4 linked regions of the Homo sapiens genome follow. The protein of the gene in region 2 purifies or fractionates together with the protein of the main gene of each other region. This does not show direct contact. Each region holds a gene or a part of one and is shown on either strand. Other genes may lie near its edges.

What was found.
Region 1: the proteins of AXIN2 (region 2) and MAP3K2 purify together in Homo sapiens (affinity purification with western blotting, with the first as the bait; one study listed by BioGRID). This does not show direct contact.
Region 3: the proteins of AXIN2 (region 2) and AMMECR1 purify together in Homo sapiens (co-immunoprecipitation; one study listed by IntAct). This does not show direct contact.
Region 4: the proteins of AXIN2 (region 2) and AMER3 purify together in Homo sapiens (co-immunoprecipitation; one study listed by IntAct). This does not show direct contact.

Annotation. Positions count from the first base shown.
Region 1 is NC_000002.12:127,381,476-127,384,975, reverse strand, and holds part of MAP3K2 (mitogen-activated protein kinase kinase kinase 2), read left to right. Parts: intron 1-3,500. UniProt on the Homo sapiens protein: Component of a protein kinase signal transduction cascade. Regulates the JNK and ERK5 pathways by phosphorylating and activating MAP2K5 and MAP2K7. Plays a role in caveolae kiss-and-run dynamics.
Region 2 is NC_000017.11:65,551,649-65,555,148, forward strand, and holds part of AXIN2 (axin-2), read right to left. Parts: intron 1-3,500. UniProt on the Homo sapiens protein: Inhibitor of the Wnt signaling pathway. Down-regulates beta-catenin. Probably facilitate the phosphorylation of beta-catenin and APC by GSK3B.
Region 3 is NC_000023.11:110,213,586-110,217,085, reverse strand, and holds part of AMMECR1 (nuclear protein AMMECR1), read left to right. Parts: intron 1-453; coding exon 454-568; intron 569-3,500.
Region 4 is NC_000002.12:130,754,349-130,758,339, forward strand, and holds the start of AMER3 (APC membrane recruitment protein 3), read left to right. Parts: upstream 1-1,191; 5' UTR 1,192-1,326; exon of another isoform or gene 1,327-1,534; intron 1,535-1,995; exon of another isoform or gene 1,996-2,033; intron 2,034-3,991. UniProt on the Homo sapiens protein: Regulator of the canonical Wnt signaling pathway. Acts by specifically binding phosphatidylinositol 4,5-bisphosphate (PtdIns(4,5)P2), translocating to the cell membrane.

The sequences.
Region 1 (3,500 bases), on a different chromosome or scaffold from region 2:
TCACTAGGAGTAGATTCCATCTCAAGAAGCCACTTTCTGTCCAGGCGTAATGGGGTCACGCTTATAATCCCAGCAGTTTGGGAGGCTGAGGCAGGAGGATTGCTTGCGCCAAGGAATTCAAGAACAGCGTGGGCAACATGGCAAAATCCCATTAAAAAAATATAGAGGTTAGCCGGTTGTGGTGATTTGGGAAGCTGAAGCAGGGAGAGTGCTTGAGCCGGGGAGGGGAGGTCAGGGCTGCAGTGAGCTGTGGCAGTGCAGACCAGCCTGGGCAACAGAGCAAGACCCTGTCTTAAAAAAAAAAAAAGGCCACTTTGTTTCCTCATCCATAAGAAGCAACTTTTCATCTGTTCAAGTTTTAGCTCTGCTTCTAATTGTAGTTCTCTTGCTCTTTCCGTCACATCTACAGTTACTTCCTCCACTGAAGTCTTAAACCCCTCAAAGTCATCCATGAGGGCTGGAATCAGCTTCTTCCAAATTCCTGTTAATGTTGATATTTTGACCTCCTCCCATGAATCATCAGTGTTCTTAATGGCATCTAGAATGATGAATCCTTTCCAGAAGGTTTTCAATTTACTTTGCTCAGATCTGTCAGAAGAATCTGATCACTGTCTATGGTAGTTATAGCCTTACAAAATGTATTTCGTTTGTTTTTCTTTTTTTAGTTTCACAGTGCGTATAAAGTTATGTTTACAATATACTGTAGTCTGTTAAGTGTGCAATGACATTCTAAAAAAGCAATATATATATATATATATATATCAATTAAAAATTATTTGTTGGCCGGGCACGGTGGCTCACGCCTGTAATCCCAGCACTTTGGGAGGCCGAGGCGGGCAGATCACGAGGTCAGGAGATCAAGACCATCCTGGCTAACAGGATGAAACCCCGTCTTTACTAAAAATACAAAACAAACAAACAAACAAAAAAAACCACTAGCCGGGCATGGTGGCGGGTGCCTGTAGTCCCAGCTACTCGGGAGGCTGAGGCAGGAGAATGGCGTGAACCCGGGAGGTGGAGCTTGCGGTGAGCAGAGATGGCGCCACTGCACTCCAGTCTGGGTGACAGAGCGAGACTCCATCTCAAAAAAAAAAAAAAAAATTATTTGTTGCCAAAAAAATGCTAGAAGAACATCTGAGCCTGGCTCAGGCTAGCCTAATTTTTTTATTTTTATTTCTATTTTTAGAGTTAGCATCTCAATGTGTTGCTCAGGCTGGTTGCAAACTCTTTGCCTCAGATGGTCCTCCCACTTTGGCCTCCCAAAATGTTGAGATTACAGGCATGAGCCACTGTCCTGGCTGTATTTCTTAAATTAGGAAATGCATCCAAGTTGGAAAAGTCAAAATACCCTATTCCCTGATGACATGATCTCTGTCATATTTAGAAAAACCTAAGGATGCCACCAAAAACCTCTTGAATTTGACAAATAATCCAGTAAAGTGTCAATACAAAATCAGTGTACAAAAATGAGGAGCATTTCTATACACCAATGACGATCCAACTGAAAACTAAATCAAGAAAGCAATCTTCAAAAAAAGAAAAAATCCACCTAGAAATGTATTTAACCAAGGAGGTAACAGATCTCTATAAGGAGAACTACAAAGTCCTGATGTAAGAAATTCTAGATGACACAGACAAACGGAAAAACATCCCATACTCGTTGATTGGAAGAATCAGTTTTGTCAAAGTGACCATACAACCTGATATGGGTTGTTTATTTGTCTCCTCCAAGTCTCATGTTGAAATGCAATCCCCAGTGTTGGAAGTGGGGCCTGGTGGGAGGTGACTGGATCATGGGGGTGGGTGCCTCATGAATGGCTTAGCAGCGTCCCCTTGATGATGAGCAAGTTCATGTGAGATCTGGTTGTTTAAAAATGTGTGGCATCTCTCCACTCTCTCACTTGCTCCTGCTCTTGCCAAGTGAGGTCCTTGCTCCCACTTTGCCTTATGTCATGAGACCTCACCAGAGGCCAAGCAGGTGCCAGCACCATGCTTCCAGTCCAGCTTGCTGAACCGTGAGCCAATTAAACCTCTCTTCTTTATAAATTACCAAGCCTGAGGTTTTTCTTAAGAGCAATGCAAGAATGGCCTAATACACTACTCAAAGCAATCTGCAGATTGAAGGCAACCCCTATCAATATACCGACATCTGCTGGGTAGAGTGGCTCATGCCTGTAATCCCAGCACTTGGGGAGGCCAAGGCAGGCGGATCACCTGAGGTCAGGAGTTTAAGACCAGCCTGACCAACATGGTGAAACCCTGTCTCTACTAAAAATACAAAAATTAGTGGGACGAGGTGCCAGTAGTCCCAGATACTTGGGAGGCTGAGGCAGGAGAACTGCTTGAACCCAAGAGATGGAGGCTGCAGTAAGCCAAGATCGTGCTGCTGCACTTCATCCTGGGCAATAGAGTGAGTCAATTTGTAAGAAAACACATTATTATCTGTGAAGCACAATGAAAAGTGAAATAAAACAAGGTATACCTCTACTGAAAGAAGAAAACTATCAAACTAGAATTCTAGATCCTGGAACTATGTATTTCAAAAATAAAGGAGAAATAAACACTTCCAGATATCTTTTTTTAAAAAACACTATGAAGCAGAATAAAATGAAGCTCAATAAAATGAGATATACTTGTATATTATTTTCAGCTGAACTCTTTGAAACTAAGCTATGGACATTATGACATTTTACCTCTCAATATGTCACATGCATCTCCTAAAGTTAAGGACATTTTCTTACATAGCCAAAATACCATTATTGTTACTTTTCTTAGGTGCGATACTTCTTTCATATACTCTAATATATATCCATATTTACATCTCATTCGTACTGAATTGTCATTTGTGGTTTGTACACCCATCCCCACCAAATCAGGATTTCATCAAAGTTTATTCATTGCATTTAGTTGTTAAGGCTTTTTGATCTCTTATAGTCTACAGCAGTCTCACCTCTTACACCCTTTAAAAATGACAATGATTTTTTTTAAGAGATCAAGACAGTTGTCTTATAAAGTGACTCATATTCTCGATTTGTCAGATTCCACCCCCCTCCCCCCGTCATAGCATTGTTTAGCTTGTTCCTGTATTCCCCCATACCAGTTGTTAAGTGTAAACTAGATTTAAAGGGTCGATTAGTTTTAATTTCAACATTTTGGACAAGAATACCTAATAAGTGATTTAATATATTTTATATGCCTCCCATTAGGAGACGTACACTGTGCAGTCCCATTATTTGTGATACTAAGTTTGATTGCTTGGTTGAGAGGAGTAAGGTGAGGTATATTTTTCTCACTGCAGTCAGCAAGTAATCTGTGGCATGATAAATTAGCACTGTAATGCTAGCCTGTTCTCCAGTGATCTTTTACCTAATAGTTGTGGTATCTTTTGCTGATCCTTGTCAGGCTAACTTTTAAATTTCAGTGTTAATAAATGTTTGTTGGTCTATAGATGGAAACAAATCACAGGAATTAAAAAATATCCAGCTAGGTTAATCAGAATC
Region 2 (3,500 bases):
AGAGGCAGTCTCTGCCTTTAAGGAGTTTGCGCTTGTTGGAGTCACCAAACACACACAAAAAGTTACAGGGCCATAAACTTTTTAAGCCAGAAGGGACCCCTGTAATCATCACAACCACCCAAGGAGGTAACTTAGCACCATGTGGGCCAAAGGCCTTGTCAGACTTGGCCAGAGGAGCCGGACCACAGCTGTGCCCTGGATCCTGTCCGACTGCATCAAGTCAGATCTTAGAAATATGCTGTAGGCATAGAACTGACCAGAAGGTGCAGACCAGGAGCACTGCACATGAACCCCTCAACACTTTTGACCAAGTGACTTGTGACCGTCACTTGGACACTCTGACCCTGTTCTCATATCTGTAGAGGGCAAGAAGTCTCACGACCTCCTGGGATTTTTTTGGTGAAAATTAAATGAGAACGGTAAGATCTTCCAGGCCTTCCTCCTGGTCCATGTGTCCTCAATCCGGAATTCCCCAACACCAAGGGCAGAGAGGAGTGGTGAGAGTAAAAAGAACAGTTCATTCTTCTGGAGAAGAGAAGGTTGATTCAGTGAAAAAGGCCTCGTAGTTGAGAAGGGGGACTCTCTGTTCAGCATCCCCACTAAAGGAAGAACAAGGGGAAATAGACTTCAAAAGTTAGAGAGAAAAAAATACTTCTAAATGGTCAGAGGAAATCCATAAAGTAGGTGGGGACAGGCTGTGAAATCACCCAAGTCTTTAAAACAGGCCAAAGTGCCCAGCCATCTGGGTGCGTAAGTAAGGCGTGGATACTGCCTTGAAGCAGGATGCACACGATGACTTCCTTGGGGCCTTTTCCTGTTGTTAGGAATCCAGTGATGAGGCCACATTCTGTAAACTCTCAGTAGGGACCAGAAGTCAGAGGCTGGGCACTGCTGCCGGCTTGGCTGCAGTGCTCACTGCTGGGCTGAGTCACAACCCCTCCAGAGGTGGGCACCCACCTGAAGAGCAGGCAGTTGGATCATGGCCTCTGCACCAAGTTCTGAGGTCCTCCAAATGAACCAACAAAGGCACAGTAATTTGGGGGAAATCACAGGAAAATTCCAAGAAAAAACCGAGTGCCAACAAAAACAGAGAGCCCCAGCCAGGCACGGTGACCCACGCCTATAATCCCAGCACTTTGGGAGGCCGAGATGGGTGGATCACCTGAGGTCGGGAGTTCAAGACCAGCCTGACCAACATGGAGAAACCCCGTCTCTACTAAAAATACAAAACTAGCCGGGCGTGGTGGCGCGTGCTTGTAATCCCAGCTACTCGGGAGGCTGAGGCAGGAGAATCGCTTGAACCCGGGAGGCAAAGGTTGTGGTGAGCAGAGATCACACCATTGCACTCCAGCCTAGGCAACAAGAATGAAACTCCATCTCAAAAAAAACAAAAACAAAAACAAAAAACCAGAGAGCTCCCATTTTCTCAACTGCCCTAATTTCCTTCATCATCTTTATCATGATCTATAATGACTGGACACTGGTGTTTCCATGTTGAACACCTGTCCTGTGAAACCAGACTGTAAGCTCCATGAGGGACAGCCCTGTCCTCACACGAATCTCCGACGCTGAAAGTAGTGAGTGGCACGTGGCAGTGACTGAAAACCTTGCTGACTCTCCTTAAAGGACCTAAGACCATTAGATGGGTCACTGGAAAAGTTTTTTAGTTTAACAGGCATGGTGCAACACCAAAAAAGCCAAAACAGCCTTAAATAGCATTCAAACACTCTTTCTTCCATGCCTTCAGTCCTGCTATCTTGGTGGTATTAACACATCAACCATGTCTCCACTGTAAGAGCTATACTTCAACCTCTGTGGGGAGAAAATGACTCAATAGAAAATTCCTTCCTCCCAGCAAAAAAGACACCTAACTCAAACCCTATGTGTGCTCACACGGCTTTGCACTCGTTGTTTAACACATGGATCCCAAAATAAACTTGTCTCCCTTCACTTCCAACATAGAGGACTACTGTGTGACCAGTAATTAAAAATGGAATATACTGCTCTTAACTCAGTTGACTGCAATAAAGTACTTGGATTTTCCCACAATCATAACAAGACAGGGCAGAGAAAGGAGGCAGGGTTGTGGGGAGAGGCAGAGACTCGGTATTTCAGAACCCAGACCTTTGTCAAAAGTGCCACATAATTTTAAGAAAACGGAGTGGGGCTGTTTTCTTGTGATTACTTAAAAAAAAAGGCGGGGGGGGGGGGAGGAAACTCAAACCACGCTACAGTAATTGTACCCAGATGCTTTATTTCCTCAGGACTGTTGTGCTTCCAGTTGCTGCAAGGATTTTAAATTCCTACACAGAGTAGAGGCCTATGCTGCAGCTTCTGCATCAGCCTCACATCCACAGACCTGGTTTGCAACCTCAGTAAGCAAAGGGTTTTCAGCCTGCAGGTGGCAGAGACCCCCGGAACCTTCAGGGAAAGGAGGTGCCGGCTGCTTTCTGTTTTCCCCTATCCTGTTCTTATCTCCTCTTAATGAGATGCTGTGGCCCTGCCCCTCCCCATAAACCAGAGGGGAGCCTCCAGGCAGGGAGCACAGAACTGACCTGACAGAACTGACCATAGGGGTCCTCCTCCTTCTCCTCCTCTTCCTCTTCCTCCTCCTCCTCCTCACGTTCCCTTCTCAAAACAATGCAACTTCAAAAGTATATGCTTCTAAGTCTGTGCGTTCAGGGCTTTCCAAGAGCCCTCTGAAAATTTACTCACAAGGTCACTGCCCAAAAGGCAATACCCTCTTCAACAAGCATTTTCTAAGGCAAGATCAAGGGACACTCGGCAAGGGGCCAGGACTCCAACAGCACTGGGCAACGGGACCTTTTGAAAACAGGCAAACTTTTACAAGTGGATCTTAGCAAACTGCCCTCACCAGAGCTTCCATCCTCTAATTGTGGACTACTGCTTCCAGCATATCTTTCCTATGGCATCATTTTCTTTGATAATTGAAGCCAAGCTTGATTCCAATGGCTCCGCACAAAAACGGGCCTCATCAGCGAGTTCTTTCAGAGAACTGGAAGCAGCACTCGGAGCCAGCAGAGGGCCATCTGCTGGGCCCGACTTCTTTTAAGGGAGGCCAGAGCAGAGGGCCCAATGGGAGGCAGATGAGCCCCACCTTGGGCAGGACACACAAGGGCCCGTGCAGAAAGGCGAGGACACAGGGAGGGCTCTGTGCACCCAGCACCTTATTCTCCTCCCCAAAATAAATGCTGGGCCCAGTGCCCAATCCCACAACCCCCCTTCGCACACACCTCGACACTGTGCGTGTGTGTGTCTGTGTGCCGGGGATTTTACACGTGCTCCTACCAACAAGTTGCTTTTGCTCTAGGTTATTTATAGCCATTGTCAAAAGCCCAGGCATCCCCCTCAACCACTCAGACCAGAGTCCTGCCCTCTGAGGATAATTCCTGCTCTTCCGCCCCAACTATTTATATTAAACCTGACACCAAATCAGTAAGGACACAAACAAGTCGTTAAAAACGAGGCTCCTTTGAGTG
Region 3 (3,500 bases), on a different chromosome or scaffold from region 2:
GTTTGTATACATATATATGTATACATACACACACACATATACACACACATATATATATAATTTTACTGCCACCAGCACTAGATCCAGAAATCTTCCTACAAGTTTCCACTAGTCTAGTTTTTATTCTTCTCAAAAGCAAAATAAAACATTCTTAGATTCTACAAGTAGCAGGGAAAGACATCAGGAAATGGCTGTACAGGAAATGTAATTGATGATTCTCTCTTTACAATTGAAGTGGTCACAAGATTGGCTAGCAAACACAATCTATTAAATGAAAAAAAAGGTGACTTCTAAAATCTTTGGGGAATTTGAATACATTTGAAGCTTGTTGGTACCTTTGACATCTTACTGATTCTTTTTGAAACTCTTACCTTTTTCAAACAATTGTTTGCATTTGAAATTGGGAACTTTCATATCCAGTGATTGCTTTAATATTTGCTTTGTTTTTAACAGTGCCCTTAAAGATAGCCGTTTTCCCCCAATGACAAGGGATGAGCTGCCACGGCTTTTCTGCTCAGTGTCTCTGCTCACTAACTTTGAAGATGTCTGTGATTATTTGGACTGGGAGGTAAGATTATAGAAAAATTTTTAAAGAAAAATGAAGGTAACTCTTGAGGAGATGTTAAAAATTAGGCCCAGAAAATAACTCTTTCAGCCCATTCTCTATTGTAATGGAGGTCGAGAGTAATATGGATGAATAAACCTCACAACTGAACGAGATATAAGTAAATGAGTTTTTTAAAGGACAAAGTGCCACGTGTTGTTATAATCCCCAAACTGAATTTGGTTTTCATTTTTCTCCTACTACCTCACCAAAGCACCTCATAAAAGCTGTTAATAAGTAATAAGAAGGACTGACTGGAATTTATTTCTCCTCTTACTTTCATTCTGGTGCACTCTGGTATAACCGCCACTAAGTAACTAGTTGGTCAGAGGATACATCTCAGAAACAAGAAGAAATATTTAGGATAATACACCATTTGGGGGAATCAGCTTGTGATAACAACAAGGTATTGATTAACTAGAGTTAAATAATGTGAATTCATTCTTGGCTACCTTAGTTTATACACTTAAACACTCTAACAAATAATACTAAGGTTATTTCTAGGGTATCTCTGTGCATTGCTATTGTTAGAGTAGCTTATATTGATCATATTTTTATTCTTCTTTAGTACATGGGGTTGGCTAACATTGTTAGTGAAGTTCAAAGGTTCTCACCATGATTTGCTTTGGTGGCTGGGAGGAGATGTTGAGTGTAGGTCTATTGGGTCTATGAAATTTTACACACAAGCATGCCCATATTACTGAATGCCTGTTTTATTCCAGGCAATGTGCTCCATGTATAAAAGTGGTAAGATTTGGTTCCCACCATGAAGCATGTCATAATTTAGTGGCGAGTAAATGTGTATAGAAAGTATGAAGAAATAAGTGCTATGAGAATGAAACAATGGGAACTCAGTGATAAACATAACATTCTCTCTCACACATACACTCATAAATGGCATTATTGTATCCTTATGACAGATTTTAATTCTTCTGCTGTTTTAGAAGGACCATCCCCCATAGTAACTGAACTATTCTGCCTTGGAGACAGATCACTGTCTTCACAGTTTATTAGACTTGAATTTAATTTTGGCTTTGCCCTGATTCCTTGTGAGACTTTGAACAATTTACTTACTCCACTGCAATTCAGTTTTCCAATATACAGAATAAGACATTTATAAGGTTCTTCATTTGAAAAAAAACTCTATGATATAAATTATTGTTGTTATACCAGAGCTATTTAAAAAGTTTTAGGGGGTGGGGTGAAAAAAAACTTTTCTACAGAGAGTACAATGCTAGAGTCCCCTCTGGGTTTTGTGCTAAGATTTTCTGGAGCATTATCAGAATATGAACACATCTTAGGATTTTTGCAAAGGAAGAAATAAAATAAATTTATACTGTTGTTCCTACCAAAGTTGGAATGTAGAAAACCTTTTGTAAACTTGAAATTTCTGATTTATTATTTGCTATAAGTTTGTTGTTCTTACTTGATTTTTCTTAAAGAAAAGTCTACAAATATTATGGAAATATTCCTTAGTACTTTATTTTTAAACAGCCCCAAATCATGTTCCCTACTTATTAACATATATTATAGTCTGGGTGGTTCTTTTACTGTTTTAAGGCTGCTGTTTCCTCTTCCGCAGCCAGATTTACTTTTGCTTTCTGGATTGCAGGGTGTTGTGTATGTAGTAGTGGGGATGGGAGTGATTATATGGGAAAAGCCTGAGATCCAAGGGGGATGACCAAGCTACAAGAACACTTCTACTCTTGCAGCTACTGAGTTGGAAGTACAGTTCTGGCATGTGTGTTTCTGTGTGTGTGCATGTGTGTGTGTCACAAACATGAACATACTAGTATTACATAAATGTGTGTGCATGTGTTTTGGGGGAAGGAAAAAGGGGAGAATACAACAGCTGTTACATAGGCATGGTTAAGCACCGAGTACATCATCATCATCTTTAGCCCAGTTAAAGCACTATCTACAGCTAAAATTAACCTTGATATTATTGGACTATTATGTCCAAAAGATACATCAGCTTTCTGTTTGTTAGGAGAGTGGGATGTAAAGCCCTTAAGAAGTAGTACTGTGTACTCCACTATATACTCTTTCAAGGCATATTTATCCTCTTTGGTCACCATCTGCCAGCCTGAATTTCCAGAAGATTCTATATTGTTCCTACTTGGTATTGTGTATTTAATATATTTTAGGGGGCTTAAATATTAATTTCTATTAAGTATTAGTTCCCTATTGAAGCAAAAAATACACTTTTTTTTTTTTTCGAGACAGAGTCTCGCTCAGTCGCCCAGGCTGGACTGCAGTGGCGTGATCTCAGTACACTGCAAGCTCCGCCTCCTGGGTTCACGCCATTCTCCTGCCTCAGCCTCCTGAGTAGCTGGGACTACAGGCGCCCACCACTATGACTGGCTAATTTTTTGTATTTTTAGTAGAGATGGGGTTTCACCGTGTTATCCAGGATGGTCTCGATCTCCTGACCTCGTGATCCACCCACCTCGGCCTCCCAAAGTGCTGGGATTACAGGCGTGAGCCACCGTGCCTGGCCCCCATTTTTTTTTTTTACTTTTAATATACAAGTATTTGAAAGTGAATTAGTTACTGTTAGAATGGCTATGCTAAGAGGAAAAGCCCATCCTTTTCAGTTAGTTCATCATTGTTTCAGGTATTTGGCAGAAGAGAAATTTGTATACAACGAATAAGGGTGGAAATTATATTTTTAAGTACAAGAATGTGATTTGGTCTTAAAAAAATATGTACCTTACTCAGTGATTGAAAATGGAGTAATAGTATTGTGGGAATGATATTCTAAGGGTTATCCTTAATGATTCTGAAAAAGCATTACTAAACACAGAATGCCAAAATGGAATTAAAGGCATTAAAAAATTATACGTTGACACAATTTCACTTCTAGGTATATACCCAAAAGAATTGAAGTGTTGAA
Region 4 (3,991 bases), on a different chromosome or scaffold from region 2:
CACCATGCCTGGCTAATTTTTTTTGTACTTTTAGTAGAGAGGGGGTTTTGCCATGTTAGCCAGGATGGTCTTGATCTCCTGACCTTGTGATCCGCCCGTCTGGACCTCCCAAAGTGCTGGGATTACAGGCGTGTAAGTCAGTGTATTGTAAAAATAAAATGTAAGTTCACATTAGAATAATATTTAAGAAAAATCATTCAGTGGTATCTGAACTGGGTAGCCTAGTGTAAAAGATTTTTCCAGGAGTCCCTGGGGAAGACCTGATCCCACATCTTGGGGAAATAAAAAATTTGAAATATATATTTTCATGTTACCCAAAAGTTAGGGGTGTTTGAAAACTGTCTGAAATGACAAAGTAGAAGGGTTGGAACAGTTTGCAGTGGCCGAACGATGACCATGTGAGCATCGAAAATGAGCAATTGTCACTCACTGGAAGAAGCTGAATCTGTAATTATCCTCACAATTACATGATTTTATAAGACACATTAAAAAATCCTTAAATGCAAAAGCGGGGAGAGCCTAATAAGGAAGGCTAATGCTTACTAATTTTAACAAGAGGAGGACTGTGGGGTCTGCGGGAGTCCTACCCCTGACTTGGGGTGTATGTGGCAACGAGGCAGAAACTGCCTTCTGTCCTACCTAAGAGAAAGACAGGGAACTCCCACAGCCAGGATCTGCCAAAAAAGGTCAAGACTACCAGCAACATGGGCGAGGGGGCCTCTGGGGTCACGTTGAGTTAGTCGCTGCATAGAAAGAGGGCTCAAATCTAAAAAATGCAAGAGGGTAGGTCACCCAAGGGTGGGGAAGGTCTTGGCTGGAGGATGAAGGGGCCTCTTGTCTCTGGGGCGAGGCGATGTCAAGGGGAATGACAAACCAAACCAGTCCAAAGCAAGGGGACTCTGTGTCCTGGGTTCTCAGACAAGGTGACCGGGAGGGAGCCCACCAAGCTCAGGGAAAGGCCTGGCCTCCGTCATCCACCTGAGCTCTGCCTTCCCTTCAGCCTTAGCCTCAGCGTGGACCCGGGACTCCTGCATCCTCCCGTCCTGCCCCGCCTGGGCACACCACGGCCGAGAGCCTCCTGTTGGCATCAGCCTCTCCCCAGCACCGACTGTGCGCTCCCGCTCCCCCCTCCTCCCCACAACCCCGCCCCACACTACTGGCACTGCTGCCTGAGCCTTCCTGGAGTTACTTAATCCACCCCAGCCCCAGGCACTGAACCACGCGTGCAGACCCCTCGTCCTCAGTTCTGCGGAGACAGAGTCCCCACAGCATTTCTGCTCCTCCCTCAAGACTGCGGCAGAGCACAGCACCAGTAGACCCCACACAGTGAGTACCTGTAGGGCAAGTGCCTCTTTCGTTCTCTTAATAATAGAGTCAGGTCCCTTCTCCAAGGGAAGACCCTGCCTTGCAGCCCCAGCCTGGCCTGCCCCTTCTTGCAGGCCCGCTCCGAACCCTGGGTAAGACTCGTGACGAGGCTCCGGGTGGCCGAGCCCTTCCGAGAGTGCTGCGGTCGGCAGGGCTGGGCTGGCTCTCTGGGCTGAGGGGGAGGGGCTCCCACACCTGTGCGCTCCCGGAAGAGGGGACAGCGGCGGGGGCGCCGTGCGCACGGGGGCGAGGGGAGACGACTGCACCTGAGGGAGGCGCAGCCGCAACCGGGTGGGAGGCAGAGACACCCAGAAACAGAGACGGGGCGATACGAACAGACAAAGCCGGCTCGAGCGCGGCCCGAGCGGCGGCGCAGGGAGGCGGCAGCCTGGCGGAGCAGCCCCCACCGCGGCCGGCGCGCCCCCTCGCCACCCCTGCGCGCCAGCGCCGGCCCGCCCCTCCCGCTGGCCTCTGGCGGCTTAACCCTCGCCTGCCCGACCCCGCGGGGCCCCTGGAGCCGCGGTGGGTGGGTGCGGGCGCCGGGCCTCCCCCTCCCGGCCGCGGCGCGCGGCGCCGGGAGCTGACCGTGGTGCTGAGCGCGGCTCGCGCTCCGACGCGGTGCCCGAGCCTGTCGCGGCCGCGCCCTGCTGCACTGCGGGCCCCCAGCGGTAAGTCGCCAAGGCCCCGAGAGGCTGCGTTGGTCCTGCCCCGCGGATGTGGACCCCCGGGGAGGGCAAGGATTGGGGAATTTGGTGCATTCTCTGGCGCGATGGACGGGCTGAGGGCAGGAAGCAGGGTCGACACCCTCCACCCAGCGGTTCCCGGCGCAGTCAGGGGCCTGGGAGCGGTGACCCTTTTAGGTCTGGGCTAGGGAAGCGGAGAAACCCTCCGCCGGCGGATGCAGGAGCTGAGGGAGAGCCAATATCGCTGTGAGGCCCATCTCCTTGCCCCTGGGCAGGCCAGGACCGCCCAGAGGCGCCCTCCAAGGAGGTGGGCCAGGACCTTCCCTCCCCAGAGGGCCCTTTGTCTCCCCAGTGTGGGGGTTGGGTGGCTTGGTGGTGCTCTCACCGCAGATTCTATTTCTGTTTTATTCCCCATTCCCACCCCCACCCCAGAGCACGGTCGCTTTCCCTCCGCACAGTGGCCCTCACTCCAGCCCTCCCATGACAAGGCAGCCTACTACTGAGAACGCTATTGCCCCATAGCTCTACCGCCAGCCCAGTTTCCAGAGGTCCCTGGGCCTGCGCTTTTTTATCACCATACACTCCTTTGTATCACACTGCTGTGACTTTCCTGCATACCGGGGAAGGCATAGAAAATACCAAAACTATTAGCCAAACGTTTTTTTGTCTCAAGGCGTTTCTGTGGCATGTGTATTCCTCCAGGGTTTTTATTTTGCTCCATGAAATCAAACACCGGGACACTTTCAGGTTAAGAAAGGAAAAAAAAAGCCACGGAATTACCTTCTCAAAGGAAAAAGAAAAAGCTGGGCAGCTAAGCCTGAGTTGGTCATGTAGAAAAGCAACCAGTAGAATAACTTCATTTGCCCAATTTGCAATAAATCCATGTCTGTGTGTGCCGTGTAAAACACTGTGATGGGAGGTGCACAGACAGAGGAGTCTCTGCCACCACCTTCTCTCCCCTAAACCCTGCTTGGGCTCCTAACTCGCCTCTGTGTCTCCGCTGTCCATTTTCACCTGCATCTTTGAAAGTGAGAATTGGCCCGTCACTTGCCCTGGAAGGTTGGCTCCCTGTGGCTTGCAGATAAAAGCACGGCCCTCGCTGAGACCTCAGGCCGGGTGTGGTGTGTACAGCCCATCTCCAGGCCTCATCCCTCTGGCTTGCTGCTCTGGTCACTTGAGCTGCTTTCAGATCCTTAAATATTCTACTTCTCTTGCTCCTCGGGGCCTTTCTGAAGGGTGTTCTCTCTGCCTGGAATATGTGTCCAATGTCTTTTGCCTGGCTGTCCTCTTCTGTCTTTTAAGTTTGGTTTAAATATCACATCCCTGTAACAGAATTAATTAAGTAAATACATTGTGTGGTCCCTGTTCCCATGGAACTTGCAAGTTCGTCTTAGAGATGAAAGACTCAGCCCAGGGTCCTGGTGTCAATGCTGTCTTAAAAAATGATGCACATAGGCCGGGAGCGGTGGCTTACGCCTGTAATCCTGGTACTTTGGGAGGCCTAGGTGGGAGGATCACAAGGTCAAGAGATCAAGACCATCCTGGCTAACACGGTGAAACCCCGTCTCTACTAAAAGTACAAAAAAAATTAGCCGGGCATGGTGGCGGGTGCCTGTAGTCCCAGCTACTCAGGAGGCTGAGGCAGGAGAATGGTGTGAACCCGCGAGGTGGAGCTTGCAGTGAGCCAAGATCACGCCACTGCACTCCAGCCTGGGCGACAGAGCGAGATTCCATCAAAAAAACAAAACAAAACAAAAAACCCACCATCCTGGCCAACATGATGAAACCCCATCTCTACTAAAATTAAGAAAAAAAAAATTAACTGGGCGTGGTGGTGCGTGCCTGTAGTCCCAGCTATTCAGGAGGCTGAAGCAGGGGAATCGCTTGAACCCAGGAGACGGAGGTTGCAGTGAGCCTTGATCACACCACTGCACTCAAGCCTG